Linked DNA regions of Homo sapiens. The protein of the gene in region 1 purifies or fractionates together with the protein of each later gene. This does not show direct contact. Each region holds a gene or a part of one and is shown in the gene's direction. Other genes may lie near its edges.

The links. The genes of interacting proteins can lie anywhere in the genome.
Region 2: the proteins of MYPN (region 1) and HOMER2 purify together in Homo sapiens (affinity purification with mass spectrometry; one large-scale study listed by BioGRID and IntAct). This does not show direct contact.

Annotation. Positions count from the first base shown.
Region 1 is NC_000010.11:68,206,988-68,210,487, forward strand, and holds part of MYPN (myopalladin), read left to right. Parts: intron 1-3,298; coding exon 3,299-3,468; 3' UTR 3,469-3,500. UniProt on the Homo sapiens protein: Component of the sarcomere that tethers together nebulin (skeletal muscle) and nebulette (cardiac muscle) to alpha-actinin, at the Z lines.
Region 2 is NC_000015.10:82,858,023-82,863,141, reverse strand, and holds part of HOMER2 (homer protein homolog 2), read left to right. Parts: intron 1-3,973; coding exon of another isoform or gene 3,974-4,006; coding exon 4,007-4,113; intron 4,114-5,119. UniProt on the Homo sapiens protein: Postsynaptic density scaffolding protein. Binds and cross-links cytoplasmic regions of GRM1, GRM5, ITPR1, DNM3, RYR1, RYR2, SHANK1 and SHANK3.

The DNA of each region.
Region 1 (3,500 bases):
TGGCTCATGCCTGTAATCCCAGCACTTTGGGAGGCCGAGGCAGGCAGATCACCTGAGGTCAGGAGTTCAAGACCAGCCTGGTCAACGTGATGAAACTCCACCTCTACTAAAAATACAAAAATTAGCCAGGCATGGTGGCACACACCTGTAATCCCAGCTACTCGGGCAGCTGAGGCAGAAGAATTGGTTGAACCCAGGAGGCAGAGGTTGCAGTGACCCGAGATTGCACCACTGCACTCCAGCCTGGGCAACAGAACAAGACTCTGCCTCAAAATAAATAAATAAATAAATATAGATGGAATATGTTTCCATAAATGAATCGGGTAGACTATACTATATTTTAGTGCTTAAGAGATAGATTTTAAAAGTCATCTCATCCTGGTTACCTCAGGGCGTTTGTACACTTTTACATTTTACTATGAGCTTCACCTTCTTCCAGAACAGTGCCTCTAATACCAGGAATTACAGCTAGTCCAGAGTTTGCAAGTGCTTGTGCCTCTGAACAGCCAATGTTTTCTTGCCATCTCCTTGCTGCCGCGGGCCACCCACTGGAACTTCCCACTGCCTGTGATGCCCCGGCAGAATTTTTGAAACTCCTTTCATTTATTCCTTTAACAAATGTGTGTTGCTCCAATCCCCCAGACTTCTCTAATAATAGAGAGCTGTCCTAATAATAATAATAATATCAAGTGACATTTGTAGGATGACACATAGGCTCCCCTCTCTCGTCCAAAGGCGGGATTCAAAGTGATACCTTTAAATCTCCCAGACCCATGAGATTATTATAATTGTAGTTACCTTCATTTAACGCTGAAAATTACATGAGAGTAACAACATTGTACAGGCTGTCCCACCACCTGGAACAGCCCACCCCACCCTCCCTGTGAGTTTCCACTCAACCTTTTAGACTGAGCTGGAGCACGTCTTCTGGAAAGCTCCCCCACACTTAAATTGACTGTGCTATATATTTAGTGGAAGACTTGGAGAGGTTAATGACTACAGCTAGGAAGCAAATCTAGGCCTTTGCATTGTTTCTTTGAACCACATTTCCAATTTTCAAAAGGATCTAAGAAATAAATTTTTATTTATGTATTTGTGTGCTCAATCCTACACTTTTTGACATTAACTGGTATTTTTAGAGACATATTTCTTAACCCAAAAGAGTGGTTTTTTTAATCCTTTTTGAAAAAACATAATTGATTAGAAAATCTCACATTCAAAACTGGCTTAACCTAATTAGCCAAAATAATAAATAAGACTAGCTCTGTCTATTACCTGATAGATCTCTCTGCTATTTATGGTTGCATAGCAGGTATTCCCTTTATTTAGTACCATACAGGAGGGGCTTCAGCCTGCCATTTTCTCTAGGTCTAGTTTTTGGAGAAAATATATAATTTTCTGGTTATTTTCCCTTATCCTAGGACTTGAGAAGAGATTAAACTGTGAAGGAAGCAGACACTAATGTACTTTTCCCTGGAGAAATCGGGGGAGAAAGAGGCCAGTAGTGATATGTTCCTTAATCAAGGCTCAGTCCTTAACCATTTCCCAGTCTTCACCAAGTCAGAAGGCAGTAGGTCTCCAACTGAGAAACTCCCCACCAATAAGCCCTGAAACAGATGACTCTTGTGCCAATCCTGCCCTCCAGTGGCTGAGTTTCCAGGTCACTTTGCCCTGGCTCTCCTCTCCCTTTCGTTCCTGTCCTGCTTCCATAGCACCAACAATAGGCAGTGCTGTTTCCTCAGTTGGGACCTAGGATGGAGGACGCGTGGAGGACTTGGGCTGGAATCGATTCCCTTCCCCGCCACCACACTTCCTGCCTTTCTGAGGAATAGGGACACGTAGGGCTCCCCTCTCTTCTCTCACTTCCTAATCCTAGGAAATGCAGTAGTCCAGTTAAGATGTCAGAGAGAGCCGGGAAGGGCTAAGAGATGGAGGGGCTGGGAGGAGAGACTGCGCAAGAGCAGGCCTTACTGAGTGTCTGCTCTTTAGTGAAACCGCTCTAGGTTTGGTCCTCCAAATTTTGATTTTTCTGAATTCACTCAGAGGTATGTAGACTGGAAAACTGAATCAAGATGATGAAATCAACAAAGGACCAATTTCTAAATCAGAATGCTAGAAAGGGGCACAGCTTTCCAGGACCCAGAGCACGAGAGTTCCCCACCTAGGGAACGCCCTTCTGCACACCAAGGTCCCCAGAAACCTAATCAGAAGATTGCCCAGTAATTTCTGAATCAGAAACCACAGCAGAGACTGTGAAGTTTGGACAGATAGCTCGCTCAGGCCATGTTCAAACCTTAAAGTCATATCTGCTAAAAACAGCAGCACTTGGTGAACATAGAAACTCTAATAAATTATCTTTTGTCCCTGAACCATGGTTGATTGTATCTAAATTACTTTTCAGTCTTCTTGCTGTAACAATAGAACCTGATTAGGGAGGTGGGTAGGTAGGTAATGACTGATTAGGGTGATTAGGGTGTGAGGTAGGCACTGCTCAGAGGGGCAAACCCATTGTTTGGCTTTCATTTCTGCAGCTTTCTTGTCTCTATCTTTTGAGGTACCCTCTTTGAGAGCCTACAACCCTCTGTACACTGCCCCTAACAGGTCTTCATGGTAGGACGCTGGAAGGGGATAAGCTTGAGAAATCACCCTCGTCACCCACTCTTCCATCTTATAGAATTCTTTTCTTTTTTTTTTTTTTTTTGTTTGTTTTTTTCTTTTTTTGAGATGGAGTCTCGCTCTGTCGCCCAGGTGAAGTGGCATGCCTTGGTGTGATCTTGGCTCACTGCAACCTCTGCCTCCTGGGTTCAAGTGATTCTCGTGCCTCAGCATCCTGAGTAGCTGGGATTACAGGTGTATGCCACCATGCTCAGCTAATTTTTGTATTTAGTAGAAACTGGGTTTCGCCATGTTGGCCAGCCTGGTCTTGAACTCCTGAGCTCAAGTGATGTGCCCTTTTCAGCCTCCCAAAGTGCTGGGATTACAGGCATAAGCCACCGTGCCTGGCCGCATCTTAGAGGAATTCTAATCTCTCACTTGTAGGATTCTAATCTCTTACTGAATTAGAATCACAGATTTTGGAATTAGGGGCTTAAGATATCACCAGCACAGTTTCCTTATTCCTGGCAGGGAAGGCTTTATTGTTCTCTTCTACAAACGAGGCAATTCAGACCCAGGTATAGTTATATGCTTTACCAAGAATGCTCAGGGAGAATCGGGGTGAGGACAGAATGCACCTCTGCAGCGTACATGCTGGACTGCATTCCTTTGATCATAACACATTATTTGGTCCATTTTCCAGCTCAGTGGCACCATCAGATCCCACCGCCCATGTCTGTCCGGCCCAGTGGCAGTCGCTACGGATCTCTCACCAGTAAAGGACTTGACATATTTTCTGCCTTTTCCTCCATGGAAAGCACGATGGTGTATTCATGCTCTTCTCGGAGTGTAGTGGAGAGTGATGAACTTTAAGAATGTCTAGGTACCTGCTGTGTAAGAGAGCG
Region 2 (5,119 bases), on another chromosome or scaffold:
TCTTGAGCAGTCAAGATCGATGCTCTAGACTTGACCATCAGCCTCACAGGGGCAGTAGCTGCAGTCTCGGGTGCACAAAGAAGCAGTGGAGAGAGGAGGGCAGATGCTGGAGCCCTAGGAAATAGGCCCAGTTATGAAATGGGAGCCAGCAAAGATGACAGGGAGGGAGAAATTCCAGCATCGCTGAGCCCCAGGAGGGAGTATGCCCAATATGTCGGTGCTCAGAGAGGAGGGGAGAGAATGCTGACAGGGACCCTGGGTTTGTCAGTGCTGTGGCCGACCCTTGGGACAGGAGATTTGGTGTGGCTCAGGATGTTTCACAAAGGCAGAACCTATGTCTGCCTTGAGTTGTCTTTCCAATACCTTGTTCTGGCCTCATCATATAAAATATGCCCACATGGACCTATGGAAATGCATGTGAATTCGATTTCAGGTAGACAGGAACTTTCCTGAATCTTTCTAAATAATCTTTAATATGATTCAGTGATACCATTAATTTTGTATGCTAATTACTTGATTAATCTCTGAGGACCTATGAAATTCAGCATCTGAAATTGTCCATGGTCTAGAAAGTTTCTAATATACTATCTTTTTCAGAATACCGCATAGTACAGTGATATATTTAAGTTTAATATCTGAATTTCTCCAGATAAGATTTTGTTTTAATATTTACCCCCTCTCAAAAGTTTATTTATTTGAGACGGGGTCTTGCTGTGCTGCCCCTGGGCTCGAGTAGTCTTCCTGCCTTGGCCTCCCAGGTAGCTGGGATTACAGGCATAAGCTAAGTATTTTAAACCTTAAAAATACATGTATACCTAATAAGATGTTATTTAACGTATATGTATTATTTAGGAATGACTTTTTGTTTCTAATCTTTAGCAGTATTTATCCTTCCTGATAGTTCCCCAGGTATAGAGGTTATTGTATGTATTTTTTTAAGGCTGGGTACAGCGGCTCACACCTGTAATCTCAGCACTTTGGGAAGCCGAGGCCAGTGGATCACCTGAGCTCATGAGTTCGAGACCAGCCTGGGAATATGGCGAAACCCCATCTCTATTAAAAAAAAAAAAAGAGAGAGAAAGACTATTTTTGTTTTTGTTTTTAAGACAGAGACTCAATCTGTTGCCCAGGCTGGAGTGCAGTGGCGCGATCTCAGCTTGCTGCAACCTCTGCTCACTGCAACCTCTGCTCACTGCAACCTCTGCCTCCCAAGTTCAAGGGATTCTCCTGCCTCAGCCTCTCTAACTGGGATTACAAGCATGCGCCACCACACCCGACTAATTTTTTTGTATCTTTAGTAGAGATGTGGTTTCACCATGTTGGCTCAGGCTGATCTCAAGCTTCTGATATCAGGCGATCTGCCTGCCTCGGCCTCCCATAGTGCTGGGATTACAGGTGTGAGCCACTGCACCCGGCCCTTGTATGCTTTTTAAAATTAGTAATCACACAATTACTTGGTTTCCTGAATCTCTTAGAGTATGAACACTTTGATTAAGTTTTCAAAATAGTTGGATTTTTAAGCAGCCTAATTACAAAAACACTTAAAATGTGGGGCTGTTTTGTGACTATAAATGCAATACATGTTTATTGTATAAAGGAAAAATATACCATACTATAAAGAAGGAAATAAAAATCATCTACCTTCTCACCACTTGAAGATATTTTATTAGTGTTTTGGTGTGTATCTTTCTAACATACTTTTCCAGGATATATTTTATATTATACCTTTTAACTTTATGTCATGATTATTCCTTTTCAAAACTGTTTTAATGACTGGACAGCATTCTAGTGTTGGTATCACAGCTTATTTGGTTAACCTATAATTTGTGACATCTGCATTTCTAAAATTTCACTAATATAAATAACACTGTGATGAATGTTCTTGCATGTCTTTGTGCATTTGGTGGTTTCTGCATAACTTCTTGAAATGGAGATATTGGGTTAAAGGTATGGATGTTCTTAAAGCTTGTGATGCATACCACAAACTTAGCCTGCAGAAATACACCATTCTAACTCCCACCTGCAGTGAATAAGGCTTTTTCTTACCACACCCTCATCAGCAAAGCTTTGTTAATTTGACAGATGAAAAGTCTTTCTTTTCTTTTCTCTTCTCTTTTTTTCTTTTGTTTTCTTTTCTTTCTTTCCTTTCTCTTTCGCTTTCTCTCTCTCTCTCTCTCTCTCTCTCATCTTCTATCTTCTATCTTTGAGACAGAGTCTCACTGTGTCATCTAGGCTGGAGTGCAGTGGCGTGATCTCGGCTCACTGCAACCTCTGCCACCCAGGTTCAAGGGATCCTCCTGCCTCAGCTTCCCCATTAGCTGGGATTACAGGCGCCTGCCACCATGTCTGGCTAATTTTTGTAATTTTAGTAGAGACAGGGTTTCACCATATTGGCCAGGCAGGTCTTGAACTCTTGACCTCAAGTGATCTGCCTACCTTGGCCTCCCAAAGTGCTGGGATTACAGGTGTGAGCCACCACACCTGGCCTTCATTTTGTACTTCTTTACTAGTGAGATTAAATATTTTTATGTTTATCGATTGTATGCTTTTCTTCTTTTGTGAATATCAATTACCTACCCCTTTTTAAGTTAAGGTGTTAATCTTTTGTATTGATTTTCAAGAGCTTTATTTTTAAACACAAAAAAATGTGAACATATGCAAATCTAGGCATAATTGTATAATGGACCTTCCTGTACCCATAGGTCAGCTTTAACAGTTAGGAAATTATGACCAATTGTTTAATCTGTGCACCTACTCATTTGCTCCCCCCCACCATATTTTAAAGCAAATGCCAGATGTTTCATTTCATCCGTAAATATTTCAGCATGTAGCTCTAAAAGATGAGGACTCTAAGAGCTTGTCAATATAGGAAAGATACTAATATTTTTTTCCTTTTTTTTATTTTGAGTTGGAGTTTCCCTCTTGTTGCCCAGGCTGGAGTGCAGTGGCACGATCTCAGCTCACTGCAACCTCCGCCTCCCGGGTCCTGCCTCAGCCTCCCGAGCAGCTGTGATTACAGGTGCATGCCACCACGCCTGACTAACTTTTGTATTTTTAGTAGAGACAGGGTTTCACTATGTTGGCCAGGCTGGTGTCAAACTCCTGGCCTCAGGTGATCTGCCCGCCTCAGCCTCCCAAAGTGCTGGGATTACAGGTGTGAGCCACCGCGCCCGGCCGACATTTTGTTTTTCATATGTACTGCTGTATATATTCCCATCCCCTCCCCACCCCCCGGGTTTTTGTCTCATTTTAATTTTGTTTATGGTGTTTTTTTTGAAATTCAGAAATTGAAACTTGGATTTATACACCATTCTCTTCTAGTTTCTTCCTTTGCCCATGTACTTATTTGAGGCTAAATAAGATCTTTCTAAGGTCTTATCTAGCACCAGATGAGATTTCACCTCTACGTGGTATGACTTACGGAAAACACTTGAACATATTCATAACAGCACTAAGTAGTAAGGGAGTGGGCAAACAACAGGACCTGGTTCTTGTCTCTTTAATGAATGTGTTGATCTAACTCTCCATAGCCCCAAGATATTTAAGTTGTCTCCTTTTCTAATATGTGCTTTTTCATTCCTTGTTTCTAAGAGTCCCTCCTCCCTTGTGGCTTCTGCCCTGTGGTATTTCAGGAGACCAGGTCTCCCAAGTTTGGTGGGTTTCTCCATAAGGCGTAAGTAAAAAGGCTCTGAGCACTGGCCCAGGTGTTCCCTTGTCAGTAAAGCACACAGACTTTATGAACTCCACATGGTCTCTTCAGTGCCTTTTTCTTTGGTCATGATAGTCTTTGTTAGGTTTTGTTTTCTTTTTTGTTTGTTTGTTTGTTTAAAAAAAAAACAAAAACTTGTTAGTCTTTGCTGCATTCTGGTTGGATGAGTTGGTTCGTCCACACTCGTAAAGTTTCTTATTATGCCTAACTTGCTGCCGATGTGCAGACAAGCAATAACGTGTGAAGATAATTCACTTTGGCCAGGAATCTGGGCGTGAAACCCCATCTTCTACTCAGGCATCCAGTGTCAACGGGACGGACGATGAAAAGGCCTCTCACGCCGGTCCAGCCAACACACACCTGAAGTCTGAGAATGACAAGCTGAAGATTGCCTTGACGCAGAGGTAAGGCTGTTTTAAAGTCCAGATTCTATTTTCTCCACCTTCAGCACTTCCCTAGAAGCCTTTCTTGCTGGACAGGGTTTCAGGAAATTGGGAGAGAAAACTGGGACCTGCTTAGAGCATCCACTCTTGTCTCCTGGTGAAAGGAAGGCCAGCTGGCTTCATGGCCCTGCTCTGGCCAACCACATCAGCATCCATTTGTGTGTGTGTGGGAAATAGAGAGTGTGTGTGTGTGAGAGAGAGATATTGTGAGTATGTAAATGTGTGGAGAGAGGGCAAATGTGCATGAGTGTGGTAGTGTCAGAGTGTGTGTGATTGAGTGTACATGTGTGGAGAGAGGGTGTGTGTGTGTGTGTGAATGCACCCCTGTGCTTGTGCTTTGTTTTGTTTTTGAGGAGGCAAATTTATCATTTATTTATCTATAACATTGACTCTTGGCCAAGCATGGTGGCTCCTGCCTGTAATCCCAACATTTTGGAAGGCCAAGGCAGGCGGATCACTTGAGCCTAGGAGTTTGAGACCAGCCTGGGTAACATGATGAAATCCTGTCTCTAGAAAAAATATTTTAAAAACTAGCCAGCTATGGTGGTGTTTACCTGTAGTCCCAGCTACTCTGGTGGCTCAGTTGGGAGGATTGCTTGAGCCTGGGAGGTGGCAGAGGCTGCAGTGAGCTGAGATTGCACCACCACACTCCAGCTTGGATGACAGAGTGAGACTCTTGTCTCAAAAAAAAGAAAAAAAAAAGAATTTTGAACATCTGAGAAACGCATGTGAAAACATAAACTATTAAAATATGAAATCACACAAAACTCAGTCACCTATATACAAAAAAGTCATGTGGAATATATATTTGAAGAAGAGATCCTTTACAGTATGAACTAGAACCATAAACTACATAGAAATAAACTTAAATATACAAGATCTATGTGAAGCAAACTTTAAAATGATTTCAAGGTTTATAAAATAATTGTTTAATAAATAGCCATTCTGTTGGGAAGTGGCAAAAAGC